2 separate regions of the Homo sapiens genome follow, and region 2 is linked to region 1. The links come from fine-mapping of genetic effects on gene expression. A gene starts in region 1. The other region holds a variant in brackets. All regions are shown on one strand. Distances are between the middles of the regions. Region 1 holds the start of TSNAXIP1 (translin associated factor X interacting protein 1). Region 2 overlaps EDC4 (enhancer of mRNA decapping 4).

Region 1 (4,382 bases):
AGGCTAGTCTCCAACTCCTGACCTCAGGTGATCTGCCCATCTTAGCCTCCCAAATTGCTGGGATTACAGGCGTGAGCCACCGTGCCTGGCTCCTAATGCTGACTTTAATGAGGACCTTCCTAAAGTTGATCCAACTAGTAGTGTTCAAGTCCTTGGACTGAAAAACAAGTTTATGAGCAGCAAGGTCACCTGATTCTGATCATGTGTATGCTGTTTACCCTGAGATGACAGGCCGGTGGCCACAGAAGCTTTCATGAATGCTGCAAAGACTCTACTATCTCTTTGAAGGCTACCAGGGCCTCCACATGACTAAATGCCATAAAAAAGAACCTCATGAATACAGCAAGAATGTGAAAGGAAGGAAGTCACAAAAACACCACATGCTCATGAGGGAAACTCCATTCTGGACACTAAATTTTTAAAGTAAACTTGTTACTTGTTTGCCTAACCTTCTAGGTATCAAATTACATCATCACTAAAAATAATCCCTGCTTTACCCCCAACACACCCACTGGCCATCAAGATCTGCTGCTTAGACCAGACCATGCCCACAGTCAGGAAATAATGGCAGCCCAGACCCATGCGGCTCCCCAGCTCACATCAGCAACAAGTGCCAGCCAAAGGACCTGAACTCTGACCACAGGGATCAGCTCCATGATCAGGGAAAGAGGGTGGTCATGAAGGGCTTACCCATCTCTTCCTTTGCTGACAATCTTCACTTCAAAGTAATAAATGCCACAGGCAGCAGGTATGGGGTGGGTGGCACGCACTGAGGCCGCATCTTTGTGATTTTTGCCATGACCTAACAGGAGAGGGCAAGTAAGAAATTTCAGCAGAAGGAAATGCAAATGGAAGCCTCATTTTTCTCTGCAACTCCTCCATGACAACTCCACTCCTCTGTGGCCAGAGGACGCACTTACACAGGCCGAGGAATCATTAGACAACTGAATAAACACTTAAACCTTCCACCTTTGCCTCACCTCCTCCTGAGAACAGCAGTCCTGCCTGAGACACTGCCCATACAAACAAAACAAGGGTAGAGGCAATGTGAGAGATACTCAAGTGCTGCTGGCAGCCTCTCTAGAATCCAGGCAGCCCACCTGGGAGGCCAGGGGAAGAAGGATGAGGCCGACCTGGAAGACACCCCCCAAACTCTAGCACGGAACCCCAGGCTCAGTCTAGGATGCCTGGCAGGTGGGGAAGCCCATGAGTCTCACGCTAATGGTAGGTATGTGACCACCCCTTTCTTCTAAGCAGTGGCGAAAGGTCCCGCTGCCGTTGGCGCCAGCCTAGGATAAGCACGGAGGCCCTGGAGTGGAAGGTCCGGCCCAGCACTGGGTTTGGACACCTGTTGCGGTTCTCTTGACGGCAGGTGTCTCAGGACAGAGAACAGGCAGTCAGCCCTCGGCCTGTTCAGCCTCACCACCCTGGACATCCTGAAAGGGCCAAGCCCTAACTTGGAGCACCTAGGCAGGGAAAGGGAGGTGATAGGGCGGGGGCCTGGCAGCAGAGCCACCCCACGGACGCTCTAGCCTTAATTCCCCCCAGCCTGACGGGCCGATACCTTTGTAGTGGACGCGGAGGTTGCCCTGGGAGAGACCAATGTAGTTGTATTTGTCCTTGGGGCTCCAGGAGCGCGGCAGCGGAGTCTCTTGCTGGTTGACCGCGGGATACAGGCGCTGCAAGCGCCGGCTCAGCTCCTGCTCCCCAGGGGACGGCAGCCCGCCCCCAGCGCCCCCGCCGGAGGAGTCCCCAGGCTGCGGGTTCCCAGCTCCCGGGTCTGCCGTCGCTGCCGCCATCTTGGAGGGAGCTACTATTGTGTCACTGGGGGCGGGGAGGAGCGGGACCAGATCCGCCCCGCTCAGCCAATGGCCCGTGAGCCTCCCTGGGCCGCAGGGAAACCGAGTCCGAGTCCGGCACCCCTCTTTGGACACTGACACGCCTTACCACATTTCGAACTCCATACCCCACAATGCAGAGCTCTCGAGAGGCGGAGCAACTCGGGCTGGTAGAGAATTCTGGGAGATGTAGTATAACCGTCCTCAGCCATAAGCCTGTCCCATCGAGACGTCGGGACACCGAAAACTACCATTCCCGCCGGCAAAGCGGCTCCGGCCTCTCAGCACACTTCCCTCCCCATGGCCTCTGTTCATCCCCCTGCCTCAGTTCTGGTACCTGGGGTCAAATCGGCTGTAGTGGTTGACTCTCAGGGCACCCGCTGCCGGGTCCCAGTCCACCTTTGCTACTTTGTCCTACTCCCAGCCCGCGGGCGCTAGGCTCGGGGGCGTGGCGCATCCCTGACTCCGCCCCCGCCGCGGGGGGGCCTCTGGGGCCTGGTCGCCATGGCGACCGGCTGTACGCTACCACAGCTTCCCAGGCCGCGGGTGCTGATTGCCCGCCTGCCCGTGGGTCATGGCCTGCCAGCAGTCGCGGTACCACAGCTTCTCGTCCGCGTCGAGGTAGGCGCTGGCAGGGATGAGGGCAGAGATGAGGGTTTGAGTACTTCTAGAGAGGGAAATGGCACTTGATCCGGACCTCTGCACCTCCTGCTGGCCTCTGACCATTGATCTAGGGCTCCAGCACCACAGAGTCAATGGTTAGAATCGGGCTGATTTAGCCCAGTGAAGACGTTACGTGCTAGCAAAACGGTAGGCGCACTTTATCATTACTAGTAACAACCAGCTTGTATTGAATGTACTATATGCCAAATGCTTTATATACCACATTTTTAAATATTTTATTTTTGAGACAAGATCTCGTTCTGTCGCCCAGGCTGGAGTGCAGTGGCACTACTACGGCTCACTGCAGCCTCGACCTCCCGGGCTCAAGCGATCCTTCTACCTCAGCCTCCCGAGTAGCTGGGACTACAGGCATGCGCCACTACGCTTGGCTAATTTTTGGGTGTTTCTTTGTTCGTTTGTTTTTTGTAGAGACGAGGTTTCACCACGTTGCCCAGGCTGGTTTCGAACTCCTAGACTCAAGCGACCCTCCCACTTCGACCTCTCAAACTGGGATTACAAGCGTGAACCCCCACACCCGGCCTACGTACCATATTTAATCCTCACAACAACTGTATAAAGTAGTAATATTACCATTGAACAAGTAAAGAAATACTTTAGAAGCCTGGAGAGATCATCCTCTGGGTAGCTTCTGCCTGTACTCAGGTGTATAGCCTCTGGGTACTGCAAAATATGACCAGCTCCATCAGCCTGGAGAGCCATACATACGGATTAAAACAAAAATTTTGGCTAAATCGTTTTCTAGTTTTGGGACTTCAGACAGGGCCCTTCAAGTTCCAGGCCTCAGCTTATATATCTCAAACATGGGAATGATACAGCCCACCCCACAAACATTGTTGGGAACATTTAGGCAGAATATGTGAAGCTCTTGACACAGCTCTTGTATGTAATAGGCACCCAGTAAGTGTTGAATGAATGTAGTGTCCCCCCTTCTACTCATTCCCAGTGGGGGAAAAAAAAAAAAACACCACCCAATCCCACCTAAACTCTTCAGGGTCTGCTGCCTTGACAGAGAAAAGCCTACAAAAGCCCCTAAGAGGCCAGGCACGGTGGCTCACGCCTATAATCCCAGCACTTTGGGAGGCCGAGGCGGGGGGATCACTAGGTCAGGAGATCGAGACCATCCTGGCTAACGTGGTGAAACCCGGTCTCTACAAAATACAAAAAATTAGCCAGGCATGGGGGTGGGCACCTGTAGTCCCAGCTACTCGGGAGGCTGAGGCAGGAGAATGGCATGAACCTGGGAGGCAGAGCTTGCAGTGAGCCGAGATCCTGCCACTGCACTCCAGCCTGGGCAACAGAGCGAGACTACGTCTCAAAAAAAAAAAAAATTTAGCCGGGCATGGTGGCAGGCACCTGTATTCCCAGCTACTTGGGAGGCTGAGGCAGGAGAATCGCTTGAACCAGGGAGGCAGAGGGCAGAGGTTGCAGTGAGCCAAGATCACGCCACTGCACTCTAGCCTGGGCGACAGAGTGAGACTCCGTCTCAAAAAAAGAAAAAAGAAAAAAAAGGAAAAAGAAAAGAGAGAGAGAGAAAGAGAATTGTTACCCAGCACAGGATTAATTTAGTAAACTGCCATTCTCTATGAAAAGGATATGAAGCAGACCCAGAAAGAGAATCCCCATTCATTTTAAGAAAGAAGCACAGGGCTGGTCATGATGGCTCATGCCTGTAATCCCAATACTTTGGGAGGCCAAGGTGGGAGGATCACTTGAGGTAAGGAATTCAAGACCAGCCTGGGAAACATAGTAAGACCCTGTCCCTACAAATAATAATAATAATAATAATAAAAGTTTCAGCTACTCAGGAGGCTGAGGCAGGAGGATTACTTGAACCCAGAAGTTCGAGAGGGTGTAGTGAGC
Region 2 (4,382 bases), 71 kb after region 1:
CAGTCCACAGAGTTCTTCTGTAGTGACCCAGACCTGAGTATTCACTGCCCTCAAAGGGTCCTTGATGGCTTGTACCCCTCCCCCAGGTAGAAGAGCCTCATGCTCATCCTTGGTCCTGCCTACATCAGTGTTTATGGAACGAGAGATGAACACAGGGCCCTCCTCCTCATGGACATGCTTTGCTCAGTTGAGTGTTCCTAGAGCACCTCATAGTTCTTGAAGGAAACTCTGAAAGGGGAGAGGCTTGTGGGCAGGTCGAGCAACCTTATCAGAATGACCCTCTTTGTCCCCAGGCCCCAGTGCAGAGAGCCCACGGCCATCCAGTGCCTACAATGGGGACCTCAATGGACTTCTGGTCCCAGACCCGCTCTGCTCAGGTGATAGTACCTCAGCAAACAAGACTGGTCTTCGGACCATGCCACCCATTAACCTGCAAGAGAAGCAGGTCATGTGAGTACCTAGGAGACGACAATAGTGGTGATGGTGTATTTGGGGTGTCTGCTAGCTGAAGGCATGAGATGGGGAGTGAGCGGGGCCAGCAGCCTCTGCTGCTTCCTCTCTAGATGACCTGGGGTGGAGCTTGAGCTTGCACTAGGATGAGAGGCAAGGACAAGCTCAGGGGTTTGGCCTGGATACCTGGTTTAGAATGAAAGTAGGCTCATTCCCAAGGAAGGAGATGAGCAAGCAGAGCTGTGGGTCTGGGGCCAGTGGACCAGGCGAAGCTGACATTGGACTAGATACCTTCCCCAGTCTGGCTATGTCCTCGCTTCCTCCCAACCCTGCCCGCTGAGCCTTTGGGTGAACAAGAGGCAAAGTTTTTGCACTCTTCCCCACAGCTGTCTCTCAGGAGATGATAGCTCCACCTGCATTGGGATTTTGGCCAAGGAGGTGGAGATTGTGGCTAGCAGTGACTCTAGCATTTCAAGCAAGGCCCGGGGAAGCAACAAGGTAGGTACTGGGATGCTGTGGCATATATAATGTACGGGGGCACACCCAGCCTTTCCAGTCTCCCTCATGCTGCCAGTTCCTATGGGGACCACCTTGACACTTTCCCAGTTTCAGGAAGCCAGGGCTGGGTGCCAAGCCTCTGTGGGAGTCTGGCTCCAGGAGGTAACAGTGGGTAGCTGGACTTGCATCTGTGTCCTCTCCCATCCCCAGGGATGTTGGGGGCCACCTAGGCTCTGGGGAAGTTCCATGACTTTTCTCACCCTGGGTTCTCAGGTGAAAATTCAGCCTGTCGCCAAGTATGACTGGGAACAGAAGTACTACTATGGCAACCTGATTGCTGTGTCTAACTCCTTCTTGGCCTATGCCATTCGGGGTGAGTAAAGACAGTGAGGAGGAAGGAATGTTCTGCTGGATGTCCCACAGAGCCAGTTCCAACATCAGGCCACTCAGGCCTTAGGGGTACAATGGAAGGTTTGTCCATGCTGCCTCTTGGGGAGCTGGGTGGGAAAACCAAGCTTGAGACTCTGGTGGTGGCAGGGAGACAGGTGGGGCAGCGCTTCTCTGCTACTGCCTGAGCCTGGATACGTATTCATGGTCCACTGCTCTCCTGATTCCAGCTGCCAACAATGGCTCTGCCATGGTGCGGGTGATCAGCGTCAGCACTTCGGAGCGGACCTTGCTCAAGGGCTTCACAGGCAGTGTGGCTGATCTGGCTTTCGCGCACCTCAACTCTCCACAGCTGGCCTGCCTGGATGAGGCAGGCAACCTGTTCGTGTGGCGCTTGGCTCTGGTTAATGGCAAAATTCAGTATCCATTCCTTCCTGTGGGTGGTGGGACTGAAGAAGGGTGGGCGGAGCTGGGGTGTCACGCCTCTTCATTCATCTATCTAGCCCTTAACACCCTGCTCAGAGAAGAGATCTTGGTCCATATTCGGCAGCCAGAGGGCACGCCACTGAACCACTTTCGCAGGATCATCTGGTGCCCCTTCATCCCTGAGGAGAGCGAAGACTGCTG[T/C]GAGGAGAGCAGCCCAACAGTGGCCCTGCTGCATGAAGACCGGGTGAGGGGGCTGACATGGCGAAGAGGCGCCAGAGAAGCCATAGTGTGGGGTTGGGCTGCACACTCACCTCCCTGTGCCTTCCAGGCTGAGGTGTGGGACCTGGACATGCTCCGCTCCAGCCACAGTACCTGGCCTGTGGATGTTAGCCAGATCAAGCAGGGCTTCATTGTGGTAAAAGGTCATAGCACGGTAAGCCTGTGACTGCCTGCCTCCCCTGCCCTCCCCACTTCCTCATATCCATCTTCTGTTCCCTATATCCACAGCTGCCCGGGCAGCTTTACTAGCATTCTGCCCGTGGGGACTCTGAGCTCAAATTGGCCCTCACCTGTGCAGCTTTCTCCTTATCTAGCAGCACCCTGCAGGTCTGGCCTTCTCTAGGAACCCTGTTCATTTAGTCAGTCACACAAGCATGCCAGTCCCACCGTGAGTCAGCCCAGCTCATTGCCATCCTCACTTGGGAGGGGCTTGTTCTCACCTCTAGTCAGCAAAGCTTTTTGGGTTCTTTCTAGTGCCTCAGTGAAGGAGCCCTCTCTCCTGATGGGACTGTGCTGGCTACTGCGAGCCACGATGGCTATGTCAAGTTCTGGCAGATCTACATTGAGGGGCAAGATGAGCCAAGGTAAGGCAGGGCCTCAGGGACCAGGATCCTCCCGAGGTAGCCCACCCGACCACTCACTCAGGCCCCTCATCTGCCTACCTGCAGGTGTCTGCACGAGTGGAAACCTCATGATGGGCGGCCCCTCTCCTGCCTCCTGTTCTGTGACAACCATAAGAAACAAGACCCTGAGTGAGTGAGTGGGCAGCCTAGTGGGTGGTGGGCTGGACCATGGCTCCCAGCAGGGGCCCCAGCCAGTCACTCACTGCCTTGTTGCCTTGCAGTGTCCCTTTCTGGAGGTTCCTTATTACTGGTGCTGACCAGAACCGAGAGTTAAAGATGTGGTGTACAGTATCCTGGACCTGCCTGCAGACTATTCGGTAAGCAGTGGCTGGAAGGCTGGGGGACTGGGCAGGGGCGGCAGGGTTGGGAATGTAGCTTCCTTCAGTTCTCAGGCTCATTCACTCTGCTTTGTGGCTCTCTAGCTTCTCCCCAGATATCTTCAGCTCAGTGAGTGTGCCCCCTAGCCTCAAGGTTTGCTTGGACCTCTCAGCAGAATACCTGATTCTCAGCGATGTGCAACGGAAGGTAGGCTGCCATGGGGTACCCTGGGCAGAGTTGGGATTATAGAGGAAGGCCGGGGGGCAGGTGGCGCATCACAGCCCTTAGCCTCTGAGCTCAGCTAGGAACGTTCTGCCTGTGCAGGTCCTCTATGTGATGGAGCTGCTGCAAAACCAGGAGGAGGGCCACGCCTGCTTCAGCTCCATCTCGGAGTTCCTGCTCACCCACCCTGTGCTGAGCTTTGGTATCCAGGTTGTGAGTCGCTGCCGGCTACGGCACACTGAGGTGCTGCCTGCCGAAGAGGAAAATGACAGCCTGGGTGCTGGTGAGCTGCCTCAGGGTCAGAGCTATGTGTCCATATATCTAGGGGGTTGTGGAGGCACAGAGAGGGCCAGGGGCTTCATCATCCACACTGTCCTTTCAGATGGTACCCATGGAGCCGGTGCCATGGAGTCTGCGGCCGGTGTGCTCATCAAGCTCTTTTGTGTGCATACTAAGTGAGTGAGTGGGGAGGCCCGCCAGTGTCCTGTCTGTGTCTGTCTCCACTCTACTGACCCTTGCCCTTGGAGCACTTTATTCTCCCCCTTCTTTTCCTGCAGGGCACTGCAAGATGTGCAGATCCGCTTCCAGCCACAGCTGAACCCTGATGTGGTGGCCCCACTGCCCACCCACACTGCCCACGAGGACTTCAGTGAGTAGGGCGTGAGAGGGAGGTAGGGTAAGTTGGACTGACCAGGGTCTGAGATCTAACTCAAGTGGCAACTTGCCCTGCAGCATTTGGAGAGTCTCGGCCCGAACTGGGCTCTGAGGGCCTGGGGTCAGCCGCTCACGGCTCCCAGCCTGACCTCCGACGAATCGTGGAGCTGCCTGCACCTGCCGACTTCCTCAGTCTGAGCAGTGAGACCAAGCCCAAGTTGATGACACCTGACGCCTTCATGACACCTAGCGCCTCCTTGCAGCAGGTACTCTCCCAGGGTAGGGGGACCTGGGAATGCCTCAGCCACAGGCCACAGGTCTTATTTCCTGCATCTCCCCAGATCACTGCCTCTCCCAGCAGCAGCAGCAGCGGTAGCAGCAGCAGCAGCAGCAGTAGCAGCAGCTCCCTTACAGCTGTGTCTGCCATGAGCAGCACCTCAGCTGTGGACCCCTCCTTGACCAGGTGAGGCAAGGGTCAGAGATGGAGGATGGCAGGGGCTGGTACCAGATGATGCCAAGCTCTGG

Evidence for each region. PIP is the estimated chance that this variant, and not a neighbour inherited with it, causes the effect.
Region 2: its variant is the best candidate, but not a certain one, in a credible set for the expression of TSNAXIP1 in cerebral cortex (GTEx, PIP 0.61).

The regions. Positions count from the first base shown.
Region 1 is chr16:67,804,738-67,809,119 of GRCh38, forward strand. It overlaps TSNAXIP1 (translin associated factor X interacting protein 1), which reads left to right and starts at 2,152. Exons shown (of 16, transcript NM_001288990.3): 1 at 2,152-2,459. The coding sequence starts at 2,413. It overlaps RANBP10 (RAN binding protein 10), which reads right to left and starts at 1,823. Exons shown (of 14, transcript NM_020850.3): 1 at 1,565-1,823; 2 at 691-802. The coding sequence starts at 1,799. RefSeq lists enhancers at 946-1,566, 1,567-2,186, 1,892-2,121 and silencers at 1,542-1,761, 2,262-2,381.
Region 2 is chr16:67,875,652-67,880,033 of GRCh38, forward strand. EDC4 (enhancer of mRNA decapping 4) reads left to right here. Exons shown (of 29, transcript NM_014329.5): 2 at 294-450; 3 at 837-948; 4 at 1,222-1,321; 5 at 1,566-1,755; 6 at 1,858-2,005; 7 at 2,090-2,194; 8 at 2,515-2,624; 9 at 2,709-2,792; 10 at 2,885-2,980; 11 at 3,086-3,188; 12 at 3,306-3,486; 13 at 3,586-3,658; 14 at 3,761-3,852; 15 at 3,936-4,123; 1 more. Among named protein-coding and RNA genes, the nearest start is that of EDC4, 4.8 kb to the left of the region's middle. The variant T/C (reference allele first, on the strand shown) is at 1,963.